Linked DNA regions of Homo sapiens. The protein of the gene in region 2 purifies or fractionates together with the protein of the main gene of each other region. This does not show direct contact. Each region holds a gene or a part of one and is shown on either strand. Other genes may lie near its edges.

Region 1 (3,809 bases), on a different chromosome or scaffold from region 2:
CTGTCCAGAACAAAAGAAAACATGAAACTCTGATGTCCCTGGACAACTCCTCTCAGTGGCAATTCTCTCTCAATCCCTCAGCCCTACCAGCTCAATGCTCACTGTGTGCTACTTCCTAGAGGGAAAGTCTCTGAACTCCCTGACCTCCTTCCTAAACATTACATCTACTTCTCAAGTATCTTCCCTTAAAAACTATTTTCTTTTCCGTATTTCCCTCAAGCTTGTATCCACTCTTTCTATTTTCCTTGAAAGCTAACTCTCTTGAAAAAGAATAGTCTTCATTTGCTACTTCCACTATCTCAGCAGTCAATGCCCTGGGTAGAGAAGTGAGACCCAGCATCTGGTACCACTGGTCTTATACTATTTTCTTCCAGACAATTCATGAATTTCTAATTACTAGAGTCCAGTGGACACTAGACCATATTCATCTTATTCAGTCTCTACAGCACTTGACATGATTTATGCCTCCTTCTCTTCTGTAAGTTTTCTTCTCCCTTGGCTTCCATGACTTCTCCTCTCTCCTGATTGTCTGGCTTTCTCTCTGACCACTTCGTTGACTGCCAATGTCTGATCTCTGGGAATCTTCTTCCTCTATGTATTTGGGCAACCTCATCGACATCTATGTCTTCTATATACCTTTCATATATGGACAACTCCTAAATCTCCAAACTAGACATCTTTTTGGGTTCTAGATTTAACAGGTACTGAACAGCTCCACTTAGAAATACTATAAGCACCTCAAGTTTAACATACTAATAATTTATAACAACCCCCTCTTACCCTAACCTGCTCTTTCTCTTGAACTCCTTATCTTAATGAATGACACCGACACCCCATTTTCACCACCAAGTCCTTTTGGGCCTACTTCAACAACATCTATTTTTAAAACAGATGATACATCTCTAACTTGCAAATGTATTAGTAATAATATGCTTTTAAAAGGAAAAAAAAACTAACATAACCCCAAATATGCTTATTTCAATTCTAGCTGTCTGTTGCTCCTCAGAAACTGAAAATGCCCCAGATAACTAAGTACTTAGTAACCTGCTTATTGTGATGACTGAGAATGAATTAAAATTCTATATCCCACCTTAGCAACTTACTTAAAAATTAAAACTAACGAAACTTAAACACTAGAAAATATTTAGAATACAGACAAAAATGTAGGTTGACTATTTCTAAAATCAAGTCTGCTCGTTTGACATTCTACACTCACTTAAGAGTCCATTAGTTTCTTTCCCCTAACCATAAAGTTTGTGAAAATATTAAAAACGTCAGTAGTACCTCCCGACCTCCCAAACCATTAAATACAACCAATTTAACCAAAGATGGTATTTCTCTTCCTCAAATAGCTCAATATATAAAAAAACACTTAATTACCTGAAGGGCCATTCAACATTGTATCTTCTGAAATGAACTCTATTCCTAGCTTTCTTCCATTTTCCATATAGGCTTTCCATAGGCTCTTATTGGGAAGAACATTGTAATAATCATGTGCTCCACCTTTAATTTCCACCTAATAAAAAATTGCAAAACAAATTTTGAAATAAAAAACTCAAATTCACTATCTAATTTTCAAACCAGTGATTGTTCTCTAATAGGAAGAGGTTTTAAGAGAAGATACTTTCCCTTCCAGATATAAACACTCTCAAATCTCTTACCTTAAAAAAGAAAAAAGATTTATTTTCTATAACGAGAGTTCCTAGGACTCTCTTTTATGCTATATATACACTAAACCCCACAATGTCACCAAGCTCTATACTAGCTACCAAGTGTCAACTTCAGTCACCTAGATAGGGTATGAGAAGGGCCCAGAAATTTTTATTTTATTTTTGAGATGGAGTCTCACTCTGTTGCCCAGGCTGGAGTGCAGTGGTGTGATCTCAGCTCACCACAACCTCCGCCTCCCAGGTTCAAATGATTCTCCTGCCTTAGCCTCCCAAGTAGCTGGGATTACAGGCGCCTGCCACCAAGCCCAGCTAATTGTTTTTGTATTTTAGTAGAGATGGGGTTTTGCCATGTTGGCCAGGCTGGCCTCAAACTCCTGACTTCATGTGATCTGCCCGTCTCGGCCTCCCAAAGTGCTGGGATTACAGGCATGAGCCACTGCACCCAGCCTAATTTTTATTTTAACCAGCACCTCAAAGTAATTCTGACATAGGTGACCCAAAAACCACACTCTGAGGAACACTGCTCTAGGATTCAGTCTCCAAAAAAAAGAAATTAAGCTTTACTAATATTCAATATGCAAACTGACACTGACATCACTGCCTGGTGTGAGAGGTAGAAAAGTACTCTGAGGGAAATGTAGAAGATTTGCAATGAGGAAGGGTTGACAACAGTCCTCATTTATTAATTTCAGTATATAAAGATACGGAAGCAGCTTTTATGTGCCCAGTTAAGTGGATTTACAGATTCAGTTTTGATTAAATAAAAATTGGCAATATTCCCTCAAACCAATATTAGCAAAAGCCAATCATAAAATGGCAGAGATGACATTTCTTTTATTCTTAGCAACATCTACGGTAGAAATTATGACAACCAAATCAGACCTTACAAGTCAGCCAAAATATAAGAAATTACTAAAAGATTATTTAAAATATAGATTTAGGCCAGGCAAGGTGGCTCACACCTGCAATCCCAGAACTTTGGGAGGCCAAAGCACGAGGATCACTTGAGCCCAGGAGTTTGAGACCAGCCTGGGCAACACAGGGAGAGCCTATCTCTACAAAAAACTTTAAAAATAAATAAATTAAATTAAATATAGATTCAAATCCAATAACAACAAACCTTACCATAAGGGAATACTGTATACCTTGAGATATTGCCTAATGATAATAGTTCACATCCATAAGTATTTCACAAATAAATATTTATAATTATAAATGAATAAGGGAATAAATATTTAGTTTTTACTGCCCTCAGCTATGGACATTTCACAGTTTTCATTCACTATAACCATCTTCTCTAGTGGCATATGAGAATACATCTTTGCTCCTACATCTGTCCATATGTTTATCGATTAACTACAACACAACACGAGCTTCTATATTCTTATCTTTGCTGACTATATTCCCTAAGAACTTTCAGTCTCTGTCTTTCCCATGCATATCTGAAAGTATGATCAACCTTCAAAGCTCAGTTCAGGTCTACAGTCTTCCACAAAACCTTCCTCCAAGGTTAACAGCCCCAGACCACTCTTTCCCACCTCTGATCCTCACGACACATTCCACACTACTCTCAGGACACGTAACATATGCTTTCTGAGAATTACTGCTACTGTGAGATACTGCTACTACGTGAATCAATCATACATCTCTAGACTAATAAGAACAGAAAAAAATAAGGCAATATAAATGAAGGCTGGGCTCTAAACCCTTCAGAAACATTATCTCATTTAATTCTCACAAGAATCCTAAGATAAATTGTTATTATCTCCATTTTTCAAGCAAGAAAATGGAGAGCCAAAGACACTAAACATTTCTAAAGGTTACAGAATTAGCTAGGCTGAGAGTTATGGGTCAAGATCTTGTCTCTCCAACTAGACTACAGGCTCCCTCTAGGGCAAGATTCTTATCTTGTATAATTCTAAAACTCACTCCACTTTACACAGTACATGATTTTAAATACTAACTTTATAGTTCAAATCAACAAAACCAGTCAGTGTGGTGGCTCACACCTGTAATTCCAGCACTTTGGGAGGCTGAGGTGGGTGGATCACAAGGTCAGGAGTTCGAGACCAGCCTGGCCAACATGATGAAACCTCGTCTCTACTAAAGATACAAAAAAATAGCTGGGTGTGGAGGCAG
Region 2 (4,429 bases):
TCCCTCTCTCTCTGTATTTATTTCTTTCTGAGATGGAGTCTTGTTCTGTCACCCAGGCTGGAGTCCAGTGGCGTGATGTCAGCTCACTGCAACCTCCGCCTCCCGGGTTCAAGCAATTCTCCTGCCTCAGCCTCTCAAGTAGCTGGGATTACAGGCACATGCCACCACACCCGGCTAATTTTTGTATTTTTAGTAGAGATGGGGTTTCACCATGTTGGCCAGGCTGATCTCGAACTCCTAACCTCGTGATCCACCCACCTCGGCCTCCCGAAGTGCTGGGGTTACAGGCATGAACCACCACACCCAGGCATGTCCTAGCTATTTTTGAGGCTGAGGTAGGAAGATCACTTGGGCCCAGGAATTTGAGGTTACAGTGAGCTATGACTGGGCCACTGCACTCCAGCCTGGGTCACAGAGTGAGATCCCAATTCCAAAAAAAAAAAAAAAAAGTATGGTTCCCAGCATGGTACTATAAAGCAGGTCCCAGCATTCATGCTACGCTGCTTGGTTTGAATGCCAGTGCTGGCTCTCTGTGTGATCCTAGGCAAGTAACTTAACCTCTGTGTGTCAGTTTCTGCATGTATATAATAAGGTTAATAATTGTACCCATTTTGGCTGGACGCAGTGGCTCATGCCTGTAATCCTAGCACTTTGGGAGGCCGAGGCAGGTGGATCACCTGAGGTCAGGAGTTCAAGACCAGCCTGACCAAAATGGAGAAAACCCATCTCTGCTAAAAATACAAAAAATTAGCTGGGCGTGATGGTGCGCATGCCTGTAATCCCAACTACTCGGGAGGCTGGGGCAGGAGAATCGCTTGAACCTGGGAGGTGGAGGTTGCAGTGAGCTGAGATCACATCATTGCACTCCAGCCTGGGCAACAAGAGCAAAACTCCATCTCAAAATAATAATAATAATAATAACAATAATAATAATTGTACCCATTTTGTGGGGTGGTTATGAGATGAGAGGCTTATCAAGGTTTTAAATCTGCCTGGCACAGGAAATGTTCTGCTTTTCATTGCTTCTGCAGAGATGGGGAGACTAGGGGACCATGCTTGGGATGGGAAGAATGGGTGATCCATTTTACAGTGTAAGCAGCCTCCTCTCCACCCACTGGGTGTCCCCTCCTCCCCCAAGGCTGCTCTCCTACCTCAGCACCCCATTCCCCAGCCTCTATTCATGCCCATCCCCAGTGGGTTCAATAGCTCCTCCCTCCAAGCCCCTTACCTTCTCTCCTCCAGTGCTGAGCCTTAATGGGGGCAGAAAGGGGTCATAAAGAACCCTCTTCAGCTCCACATCCACGGGGCTCTGCCGCTTCCCCACAGCACACAGACTCCACGCTGCATTCACCAGGCCCCAGAAAGGAGGCCCTGGGGGTGGGGTCGGAGTAGGAGGACAAGGAGTCAGAAATAGAGACTGGATCCCAGGGCTGGTATCTGCTGAGTGGGCTGTGGTCTGGACTCCCAGATCCCAGGGGAGGAGGGGCTAGGGACCTAGACTCCTGGGTCTGAGGGAGGACTGGGCTCAGATCCAGAATTCTGGGTCCTAGAAGAATCTTGGAATAGTTTCCAAGTTTAGCAGAGACGGGTTTCACCAAGTTGGCCAGGCTGGTCTTGAACTCCTGACCACAGGTAATCCACCCACCTCGGCCTCCTAAAGTGCTGGGATTTCAAGCGTGAGCCACCGCGCCCAGCCGATCAAACCCATCTTAAGCCACTGTAGATGGAACTACAACTCCCAGCAGGCCCCAGTGCTACCAGCCTACCCCTCTGCTGCCTACCTGCCCCAGAGCCCCGTGGGAGTTGTAGTTCTTTTTTTTAATCGCTCTTATCCCACAGCTGGATTATTATTAATGTGTTGGGGAGAGGAGCTGCAAGAGAAGGCTGGACAAGGTGGGGGACGGGGCCACCCAGCCTCTGGTTCCTAGCAGGAGCCAGGACCTTCCTCTCCCGGCAAACACACACATAATCTCCACCCCCACACTTTCCTTCCACTCACTCCCACTCACTACTTGAAATGCGCATGTATAATGTCCCATGGTGAGCCCCTGGGGTTCAGAAGCTGGCCCGACTCCTGAGGGACAGAGGAGGGGGCTGGGACTCCTGGTCCTGGGGGGGAGGAGGGAGCTGGGAACCCAGGTTCCTGAGTCTGAAGAAGGAGGCGCCGGGAGGGCCGGACTCCTGGGTCCCCGCCTTGGCGGCACCTGGCACGAAGTTTCCCTGGAGATTATCCTTGTAGCTCCACCAGTCCTCGGGGTCAGGTGCTGGTCCGATGTGAGCTGGGAAGAGAGCAGCCTGAATCCCTCTCCTTGGCATCCCCACCTCCACCCTCCCTCGGGGGCTCCTCCCGGGAACCCCAGGTCTTACCTGCTGCCCCCAGTGCAGCCCAGAGTACCAGCGCTCGAGGGGCGCTCAGACGAGCTGCAGCCCCCATCCCCAGGAGGCCTCCGAGGGACCCCTGCCCAACGCCCTGCCCCCCTCTCTCAGCTCCTCTGTCCCCTCCTTCTGGGACCCTGTCCCTCCAGGACTTCCAGCTTTCCTCTCCTCCCCACAGGGAGTCCCAGTTCCCCAAATGCCAAAGCAGCCAGGGACTGAGATCCGCCCTTCAAACCCACTCTTCTTCTCTCTCCCGTCTCTCTGTGTCTTTCCTCTTTCCTCTGCTCTTTTCCCGGAACCCTCCAGTCTCCCTCTAGCTCCTGATCTTCCTACTCCTCTCAGCCTTCTGCTGCCCCCAGGGCTACCTCTTGGTTCCTAACCCACACCTCCTCTCCGTTCTCTTTTCATTAAGCTCTCCCAAGCCACCTAACTCCAGGTCTCCATCCCGCATCTCCTCCTCCTCCTCCCTCTCTCCTTTCCAGCTCCTGCCTCTTCTCCCCTCTCTCCTTCTTCACCTCCTCCCGCCCTCCCTCAGTGTCGGCCTCCAGCTTCGTGCTCTCCCCACCTCCTCCTCTCCTGCCTCTTCTCCCTGTTTCAGTCTCTCTTCTCTCTTGTCCCTTCCTCCCTCCTCCCCCTCCCTCTCTCCTCTCCCGTGGTGTTATTTAATTTTGTTGTTGGGCTGGGGGAGCAGGTGATCTCATAGCGGCAAACACTCCTCGGGTTGGCTTGGGGTGGGATGTGCGAAAGGGCAGGATTCGGAAGGAGGTAGGGGGCTGGTCCTCGGCTCCCAGCCGCGCTGGGGCCACGCGGGCGGGGGTGGCCGGGACACCTGGGGCCGGGAGCAGGCTGTTTCCATCCTCCGCAGCAAGGGGAAGGGGGGGCGCTTAAGGTGGAGCTGGGAGTGGCTTCGGAAGTCTCCATGCTGGGGGCCGCCGGCCTTGGCGGATGCAGGGTCCCCCTGCTCGCTGGGACCCAGGTTGGAGCCGCCCCAGCGCCCGCAGCCCCCCTTCCCCGCCCCAGGGCTCCACTGGGTCTCTGCCTGGGGCTGCCTTAACGGGGCCGGGGGATCCCCTAGGAGCCTGAAGTGCAGTGAGGGCTGCTCGCCTGGAGGGGGAGGCAGAGACCTGGCGAGGGAGAGAGGGGCGGGGAGGAGGAGCCGGGAGGGCAGAGGCGGAGAGCGGGAGGTGAGGACCCACATCTGCGTAGGCTGGGGAGGGGAAGGGAGCCTGAGATGGATACGGAGAGGAAGGGCGGAGGGACAGAAGGTTAGAGAGGCAAGAACAAACCGCCAGGCAGGAGTGAGGAGGAGGGGGAGGAGGTGAAGGAGGAGGGGGAGGAGGGAGAGGAGGGGGAGGGAGAGGAGGGGGAGGAGGGAGAGGAGGAGGGGGAGGGAGAGAGGAAGGAATGAATGAGAGAGATACAGATAGAGGCAGAAAAGGAGATACAGAGACGCAGCGAGACAGACATGGAGACATAGAGACACACACTTAGAGATAGACAGAAACTCAGAGACCAAGCAGCAGATGGGGTGGGGAGAGACAAAAAGAGAGAAAGAGCGATCCAAAGACAGAGAGAGACACCACATTTTTGTATTTGGGGAGAAGAGATGGGGTCATGCTATGTTGCTCAGGCTAGTCTCAAACTCCTGTCCTCAAGGGATCCTCCCACCTTGGCCTCCCAAAGCATTGAGATTACAGGCATGAACAACCATACCCAGCCTCAGAGAGACCACATATTACTGTTGTTGTTGTTATTTATTATTTTTCACCCCGTCTAATGGTAGTGAAACTGCTCATTGTCTTCTTTTATTTTCTTTTTTGAGACAAGCCTTGCAATGTCACCCAGGCTGGAGAGCAGTGGTGCGATCATGGCTTGATCCAGCCTCGACCTCCTGGGCTTAAACACTCCTTCCACCTCAGCCTCCCAAATAGTTGGGACTACAGGCACATGCCACCATGCCAGGCTAATTTTTAAAAATTATTTTTTGTAGAGATGTAGTCTTGCTATGATGCCCAGGCTGGTCCGGAACCCCTGGGCTCAAGGGATCCTCCTG

What was found.
Region 1: the proteins of CA11 (region 2) and PM20D2 purify together in Homo sapiens (affinity purification with mass spectrometry, with the first as the bait; one large-scale study listed by BioGRID). This does not show direct contact.

The regions. Positions count from the first base shown.
Region 1 is NC_000006.12:89,156,032-89,159,840, reverse strand, and holds part of PM20D2 (xaa-Arg dipeptidase), read right to left. Parts: intron 1,517-3,809; coding exon 1,381-1,516; intron 1-1,380. UniProt on the Homo sapiens protein: Catalyzes the peptide bond hydrolysis in dipeptides having basic amino acids lysine, ornithine or arginine at C-terminus. Postulated to function in a metabolite repair mechanism by eliminating alternate dipeptide by-products formed during carnosine synthesis.
Region 2 is NC_000019.10:48,643,199-48,647,627, forward strand, and holds the start of CA11 (carbonic anhydrase-related protein 11 precursor), read right to left. Parts: upstream 2,990-4,429; 5' UTR 2,435-2,989; coding exon 2,368-2,434; intron 2,280-2,367; coding exon 2,205-2,279; intron 1,372-2,204; coding exon 1,229-1,371; intron 1-1,228. UniProt on the Homo sapiens protein: Does not have a catalytic activity.